Regions from separate parts of the Homo sapiens genome. Here regions 1 and 2 are each linked to region 3. Evidence: fine-mapped expression QTL. A gene starts in region 3. Each other region holds a variant in brackets. All regions are shown on one strand. Distances are between the middles of the regions. Region 1 has its middle 11 kb from the start of S100Z. Region 2 overlaps S100Z (S100 calcium binding protein Z). Region 3 holds the start of F2RL1 (F2R like trypsin receptor 1).

The links. PIP is the estimated chance that this variant, and not a neighbour inherited with it, causes the effect.
Region 1: its variant is fine-mapped to the expression of F2RL1 in whole blood (INTERVAL, PIP above 0.99).
Region 2: its variant is fine-mapped to the expression of F2RL1 in whole blood (TOPMed, PIP 0.91).

What each region holds. Positions count from the first base shown.
Region 1 is chr5:76,837,853-76,840,608 of GRCh38, reverse strand. No RefSeq gene overlaps it. Among named protein-coding and RNA genes, the nearest start is that of S100Z, 11 kb to the left of the region's middle. The variant G/A (reference allele first, on the strand shown) is at 1,281.
Region 2 is chr5:76,850,591-76,853,346 of GRCh38, reverse strand. The region is part of intron 1 of S100Z (S100 calcium binding protein Z); the gene reads right to left. Among named protein-coding and RNA genes, the nearest start is that of S100Z, 2.0 kb to the right of the region's middle. The variant T/A (reference allele first, on the strand shown) is at 1,406.
Region 3 is chr5:76,817,863-76,820,618 of GRCh38, reverse strand. It overlaps F2RL1 (F2R like trypsin receptor 1), which reads right to left and starts at 1,589. Exons shown (of 2, transcript NM_005242.6): 1 at 1,355-1,589. The coding sequence starts at 1,436. RefSeq lists enhancers at 638-1,255, 1,256-1,873 and a silencer at 1,561-1,855.

The DNA.
Region 1 (2,756 bases), 20 kb before region 3:
AATTTAATTATTTGCATTTAATAATGCAGTAATGTTGCAATGAATGTTTGTGGAATTGTGAACCCTGAATATTTGAGACAGGTCTCAGTTAATTTAGAAAGTTTATTTTGCTAAGGTTGAGGACACATGCCCGTGACACAGCCTCTGGAGGTCCTGACGACATGTGCCCAAGGTGGTGTGAAAGGAAAATATCTTGGGCCCCCAAAATCACTGCGCTAAAAGTTAAAAGTCAAACTGGAAACTGCACAGGGCGAACCTGCCTCCCGTTCTATTCAAAGTCAACCTCCACTCACTGAGATAAATGCATATCTGATTGCCTTCTTTGGAAAGGAAGAAACTCAAAAGAATGCAAGAGAGTTTGTCTCTCACCTATCTGTGACCTGGAAGTCCCTTCCCTGCTTTTCTGGTCTTTGCTTCAAGTTATCCCGCCTTTCCAGACCAAACCAATGTACATTTTACATATATTGATGTTTCATGTCTCCCTAAAATGTGTAAAACCAAGCTGTGCCCTGATCACCTTGGGCACATGTCGTCAGAATTTCCTGAGGCAGTGTCACAGGCATGCGTCAACCTTGGCAAAATAAACTTTCTAAATTAACTGAGAACTGTCTCAAATGTTTAGGGTTCACAGTGCTCAGAGCAGTTTGGTTTTACACATTTTAGAGACACATGAGACATCAATCAACGTATGTAAGATGAACATTGGTTCGGTCTGGAAAGGCAGGACAACTTGAAGCGGGGAGGGGGCTTCCAGGTCATAGGTAGATGAGAGACAAACAGTTGCATTCTTTCGAGTTTCTGATTAGCCTCTAGAAAGGAGGCAATCAGATATGCTTTTTTTTTTTTTTTTTTTTTTTTGAGATGGAGTCTTGCTCTGTCACCCAGGCTGGAGTACAGTGGCGCAATCTCAGCTCACTGCAACTTCCGCCTCCTGGGTTCAAGCGATGTTCCTGCCTCAGCCTCCCAAGTAGCTGGGACTACAGGCACCCAGCAGCATGCCCGGCTAATTTTTTTTGTATTTTTAGTAGAGACGGAGTTTCACCTTGTTGGCCAGGCTGGTCTCGAACTCCTGACCAGGATGGTCTCGATCTCTTGACCTCGTGATCCGCCCACCTCGGCCTGCCAAAATGCTGGGATTACAGGTATGAGCCACCGCACCCGGCCCAGATATGCATTTGTCTCAGTGAGCAGAGGGGTAACTTTGAATAGGAGAGGCAGGTTTGCCCTAAGCGGTTCCCAGCTTGACTTTTCCCATTAGCTTAGTGATTTTGGGGCCACAG[G/A]ATTTATTTTCCTTTCACAGGATGAAGGATTGAACCACTCACACTGCTGCTGGGTTCTTGATGGGCCCGCAGGCTTGGGCTGTGGTTTTTACCGGAGGTTGTCTGTAACTCTGGTCAGGCTTAATTTCTCACCAATAAAGACAAAGGCTGGGAAACAGTCCATAGATTGACCCACTGGTAGAGGCAAGAGCAGTTCATACTCAAATCACGGAATATTTCAAACTGTCCCTCCAGAGAGGCATTCCAAGGTTGGTCTGAGTCACTCTAATTGTTGACATTTAAGTGGGACAATCATCTCAGTGAAGTTCCAAGGCTTGAATAAAATGTAGGGCTAGATCCCTGATCACTAAGGGCTTGGTTTTTGTCTTCAGAACTGGGGGTCAGGAAAGGACTGGCCACATCAGAAACTTCTTTTTGAGAAGACATCTAAACACCCAAGCAAAAACTTATCATTTTAATCAAGATCCGGAGGACAGCAAGTACTACCTTTGATTCTGCAATAAATTATAGTCCTCTCAGGGGCCTCCAAAGGGTTAATGTTTCAGGAACAAAGTTGTAATCACTAAACTATGCATACTGATGAGATTATAGCCCTAAAGTTTATGAAACCTTGATAACCAGGAAATTAATTACAGGTTTGAAACTCCTGCTGCAAACCACTGAGGTGACACGTTAGGAAAAAGCCCATAAAACAACTCCAGCCGAGTCAGTTTAGCACTGGCCTTTGTCCTGAGCATCAGGACTGCAAATCTTCGTTCACTTTCAAATTAAGAGGCCTCACTGTTAGTACATAAGCCTGTGGAGTTCAAAGTATTTACATTTTCAGACATTTTAGGACTCAGTTTAGAGAAATTAGACCACAGTATGACATATAACACAAGAGCAAAGACAACCACATCCAAGGTACTACTCCGCTAGGGCCAGAGTTCCTCATGCTTCCAATCAGGAGCCTAATTCAGATAGACCAGGGGGTTTTCTAAGCCACTTTTCAAAGGCAGAACAAAACGATTTGAAAAGCTTTTGCTGGGCCAGGCGCGGTGGCTCTCACCTGTAATCCCAGTACTTTGGGAGGCCAAGGTGGGTGGATCACCTGAGGTTAGGAGATCGAGACCAGCCTGGCCAACCTGGTGAAACCCCGTCTCTACTAAAAATACAAAAAATTAGCCAGGCATGGTGGCGGGCGCCTGTAATCCCAGCTACTCAGGAGGCTGAGGCAGGAGAATCACTTGAACCTGGAAGGCAGAGGTTGCGATGAGCTGAGATCACACCACTGCACTTCCAGCCTGGATGACAGAGCGAGACTCCATCTCAAAAAAAAAATAAGCTTTTGCTTTAGCAAATAATTTTAATTTCTCAAATCATTTCTTTTATACTTTTTTGTTTAGTTTTTTTTTTTTTTTTTGAGACAGAGTCTTGCTCTATCGCACAGGCTGGAGTGCAGTGTCCCGATCTTGGCTCACTGCAAGCTCCACTTCC
Region 2 (2,756 bases), 33 kb before region 3:
AGATCTATCTTTCTTCTTCCCTATCTTCTGTGTGCCAGCTCTCATCTCTGACTTGTCCCCGCACAGTCACAAGATGACTGCTGCAATTCCAGGCATCACATCCTCAGACCATCTATGGAGGATTATTTGGAGGGAGTCCAGGCATTTCTCTAGATTTTTCTAAAGTTTCTGAAATTAATATAGCCAGATCAGTAGAAAATTAGGTGTCTGAACTGTATCACATTGGCCCCTCCTAGAATTGTTTAAGCAGCTGTGCTTCAAGGGAAATGCTGCTTGAAGCTGCTAGAATCATCAGCCTTAGACTTGAATCGACTCTGGGATGAATGTTGTTTGAACTTTTCATTCCCTCTCTATGAAGACTCTCAGGGGAAAAATGTTGCTCTGGTTCTTGTGTTGAGAAGAGTCCTGACTTGCCTAAGCAGTCATCCCATGGATACTATGAATAGCCCAGCTGATAAGATAGGATAAGACAGATAATGTATCCTCTTTTTCTTTGGCTGCTAGAAAGCCTAGAATCAAGTTCATGAGCCACCTAGGCCGAATACTTGATTTTACCACATGCTGCAAACTCAAATACCTACAGCCGGGTCATGTTCAAACTTTGCTGTTTTTTGTTTGTTTGTTTGTTTTTTGAGACAGAGTCTCACTCTGTCACCCAGGCTGGAGTGCAGTGCAGTAGCGGGATCTCAGCTCACTGCAACCTCCGCCTCCTGGGTTTAAGCAATTCTTGTGCCTTAGCCTCCTGAGTAGCTGGGATTACAGGTGTGCACCACCATTCCTGGCTATTTTTTTGTATTTTAGTAGAGATGGGTTTTCACCATGTTGGCCAGGCTATTCTCAAACTTTGGCCTCAAGCAATCCACCCACCTCAGCTTCCCAAAGTACTGGGGTTACAGGTGTGAGCCATTACACCCAGCCCAAACTATTTAACAACAGATACAACAGAGGCACTAAGCAGAATGAAAAGCAGTTGTGAACAGGGAGCATCAGCCTGCTTCCACGGCCAGGCTGCTAGTGTAAACAGGCAAAATTGAGACTAAGAAAAAAAAAATATCTTGACTAATTTTTTTTATTACATTTGATAGAAGGGTGAGTTCAGAGAAATAGTCCATGCTGATAAGAGGACCGACACTGCTTCAGTGCCAGACAGCCAAGTGGAGTGGAGGCCAGTGGGAAATTGGAGAGCCCGTGCTCTCCCAAGAAGGCGAGACTGCTTCTCAGACCCAGATCATCGTTGCCAGATGGGATATGGCTCAGAGCTCCCAGAACTTCACTTTTTTTTTTTTTAAAAGAAAAAGTGAGAAATTTTAATTTTTAAGAATTCCTGGATTTTAAGACTGCAACTCAAGACAAACAAACAAAACCCACCAAAACCCAACAGACAAACATAAGACTGCAGGACAAC[T/A]CAAACAGGAAATTCAGCGAATGCTGGCCAGCTTGTGACTTCTGCTTTCTGCTGTGTACTTTATATTTAACCTCATTCCTTCCTCTACTTTACATCTCGTTCTTTTCTGTCTGCTTTCTCTCCTACTTAATTTATAATATCTTACTCTACTTTGTGTTATCTTCATATGTCACCTTAAATCCTACCTAGGACCCAGGAGAGTATAAATAAACTGACCACAGGACATCTCCACTTAGGTAACACATCAGAGTCTCAGATTCCAAACCACAGCAAACTGATTTTGGCATTTTCCAATCCCCTGCTCCCTTCTTCCTCTACCCCAGAGGGGATCCCCTTTTTTTGCTGCTCCAGTCAACAGCAATACCCTCATTCACCCAACTGCATGGCCAGAAACCTGAGTATGATGCTATTCCTGGCCCCTCTCTCTCTCTCATGCAATCAGTTGCCAGGTTGTATCTCCTCACTCTCTGTTCCTTCCTCCTCAACCCTAGCGCCATAGTTCAGGCCCTTGTCACTTCTGGCCTGAATTACTGCATGAGATCCCAACTCACCTCCTGCACCTACTTTGCTCTTCTTCAAAATTAGCCTCCCCTGCCTGCTGGGAGGCACACCTGAGCTCCTCACTTAACCTCCTGGACAGGCCCTGCCATCCCCTGGCTAAATCTAAACTCCCCGCAGTGTGCCCACCCATCCCCTCTGCACCATCTGTGCCGCACACGTGGCACTGCCACTGTGCTGCCCATTCCTCTGCTCAGGTGCCAGTCCTCCAGGGAAGCCTCCGATGCCCCTCAGCTCCTGGGAGCACTCCGCCTCTGGGTGCCCCTGTATCACCTCATGCTTTCCTCTAGACCTGCACCGGCACTGGGTTGAAGGAAAATAATAGTAGCCAACGTTAATTAGCACATACTCTGGGCCAAGCACCCTTCTAGGCAGTTTAAATGTATTCCTTTATGTCATCCTCAAAAATCCCATGAGGAGGCTGGGGAGCGGTGGCTCATGCCTGTAATCGCAGCACTTTGGGAAGCCAAGTGGGAGGTGGAGGTTGCAGTGAGCTGAGATCACACCACTGCACTCCAGCCTGGGTGACAGAGTGAAACTCCATCTCAGAAAAAAACAAAAAACAAAAAAAACTTTATTTCTCTGTCTAACCCAAATTTTGTGTCCTCTCACCAACTTCTCCCCAGCCCCTCCATCCCTCTTCCCTCTCTTCTTCTGTAGGCTGAGAGCAGCCATTCCAGGGCTGATTGTCCAGGCATGCCCAGCACTGGCCAGTGTGAAGAGGAGGAGCATAGACCACTGCTGTGACTTCCTGGGAGTGGGCTTACACTGGCATCTGTGCAGGCTTCAGGAA
Region 3 (2,756 bases):
TTGCTCCTGAATTTTAAGTTTCCAACTTTAAAGGACATAGAGGAGAGGTGTCCATTACAGTTTTCAATACTTCCTGGAACTAAATGCCTTTATTCTGATGCTGATTAAGAAAAAAAAATATACCAGCGGTGCACAGTTTTCAAGCTTACACCATTAACACCCTTTTCCCTAACTGCAGAGGGAAAAGAATCACATTCTTCCATCTAATTCCAACCCACTGTGACTTGCTCTTTTACTTCGTCTTTATGAAGAGGAGGATAAAAGTGAGAAATGCGCATTTCTGAGGGAAATTAAAAGCTCCCTTTGCTACCCAGGCTGCCCCAAACAGAGGGGCCTCGGTTAGGATCACAGTGGCGCGATCGCAGGTCAAACATCCCCCACGGCCACAGCGAGGCCTGCTGGGCCCGGAAGAACACACTCCCAGCAATACAAGTTCGAGCACACCCGGAGCAGCACATCCAAGGAACGCGACGGCCGGGCGCAAGTGCTGCTCTGTTCCCAGGCCAGCCAGCCTCTGGCCTGCAGACCTGGGTGGCAGCCAGTGGCCGCTCCGGGTGGCACACTAGGAAAGTCCCGGAACCCCAGGCCCAGAGGGTCAACTGGTCAAATATAAGGCAGGGTCCAAAAAGTTCCGCTCGTAAATCCTCGTGGCGCCCAACGGGCCTGAGCGCTCATTACCACCAGAACCCATCAGGGACCGGCCCTGACTTTCATACCCCGGGCCTTCCACTGTGGGTGCCAGGAGCAGCGGGACCCGGGTGGGTCTCGAACGCAGGGGCCAGAACCCGAAGAAAGGCTTCCAGCAGTTGGAGAGGGACGCAAAAAACAACCTAGAAGGCTCCCGGGCCGCGGGTTCCCACCCACTCCGCCCTGCCCTGCGCAATCAGCTCGCTAACCCCACCGGCCCCGCGGGGCCAGCGGAGGAAGTCTCCGGAGTTGGCAAAAAGCTCTTAATGACTTAGTGTTTACAAAGCAACCAAGCCCGGGGAGGGGACTAGGTCCTCTGCGTACCCTTTAGACACAGCTACTCCTTCCTTCCCTCCCTTTCCCCGAACCCACGCTGGGGCCTGGAGGTGCCCAGCATGACAGCCTCTACGGGAAGTGGGGTCTTTGGGGAAATCTCTGCCTCTGCCCGGCTCCGCTGACTTCAGCTGCTCCCGCATGTCCCACCTGGGTGCCTCCTTGGCGCAGAGACCTCACATCAAAGCCACCAAGGGGAGGCTAAGGGATTCGTAGAGATGGGTGCCGGCAGCAGAACAGCCTTCGCACACCTGCCCGGATCCCACCGTCTGCCCAGCGTGCCCAGGACCCCAGCTCCTCAGAGATAAGAGCCCTCCTTGGCCAGGTTTCTCACCTTGGATGGTGCCACTGCAGGAGAGAGAGGCTGCTAGCAGGATGGCGGCCCCCAGCAGCCACGCCGCGCTGGGGCTCCGCATCCTCCTGGAAGCCCCGACGCCGGGCGCGCGGGGAATCCGCCGCCGCCGATTCGAAACTCAGAGCTCCACTGGACGCACCGAGAGAAAGTCAGCCTCTCACCTGCCCCGAATCGGAGCCTCTGCTGCGCGCCTCCCCAGGGCGGGTTAGGTTTCAGGGAAACCGAAGGAGCAGCGTACTCACCTGCGGGAGGCCACGCCCCGGGACCGGAACGCGCGCCCTGGTCCCGCCCCCGGCCCCCTTCCCTGCGCAGCTGCGCCCTCCGCTTCCCGGACTCGCGCCAGGTCCCTTAGACTGCGGGAGCCGCCTGCGGGCGGGGTTGAGCGCATGAGGTGTCTGCTTTGGAATGCAAATAGCAGGAGCGCTGGGACCACGGGTTAATCCCTGCCTAGGCTATACCGCGAACTACCTTTAATCTTTACTTACTCCTAGAGAAGCGGGTCGTCGGTCTCCCTTGCCTTTCCTGACTGTGGGAAAGCCACGATTCGTACTCACTGCAATTGTGGTTGGTAACTGATACAGACAGGGCTTCCCGGTGCGGTGGACCCTGCAGGAGGAGGGATGCGTTTTTTATTGTAGAGGCAGGTGGGCAACTGCGGACATCACGAAAGCGGTGGGGAGCACAAGAGGCGGGGCGGGAAAGAAGACATGGAATGGCTACTTTCAGCGCCAAGTGCCAAAGCTTTAGAGAATTATCTTGCTTAATCCCCATAACAACCAGCGCAATAAGTATGATTATTCTTCCCATTTTACAGACGAGGAAAGTGAGCTTAGAAAGACCAGATAAATTGGCCAGAGTTACACGACTTATAAACACAGTGTATAAATGTTTATCACATTTCAACTCCAGTATAAGACTATCACTGTCTTCTATTCATCGCTGCACTATAAATGCGTCCACCAGGGCTCCTCTGCATTGGGATCCCATAGGCTAAATAAATACAAAAGCAGATAGAAGGGGTGGGAGAAGAGAAGTGTGGGGTTGGGGATGAGTGCATGAGGGTTGGCATCATATTGGTAATGTCTTACTTTTTGTTTTTGAGACGGAGTCTCGCTCTGTCTCCCAGGCTGGAGTGCAGTGGCGTGATCTCGGCTCACTGCAAACTTTGTCTCCTGGGTTCAAGCAATTCTCTGGCCGCAGCCTCCCGAGTAGCTGGAGTTACAGGCGTGCACCACATCTGGCTAATTTTTGTATTTTTAGTAGAGGCGGGGTTTCACCATGTTGGTCTGGCTAGTCTCGAACTCCTGACCTCGTGATCAGCCCACCTCCGCCTCCCAAAGTGCTGCGATTACAGGCGTGAGCCACCGCACCCAGCATGTCT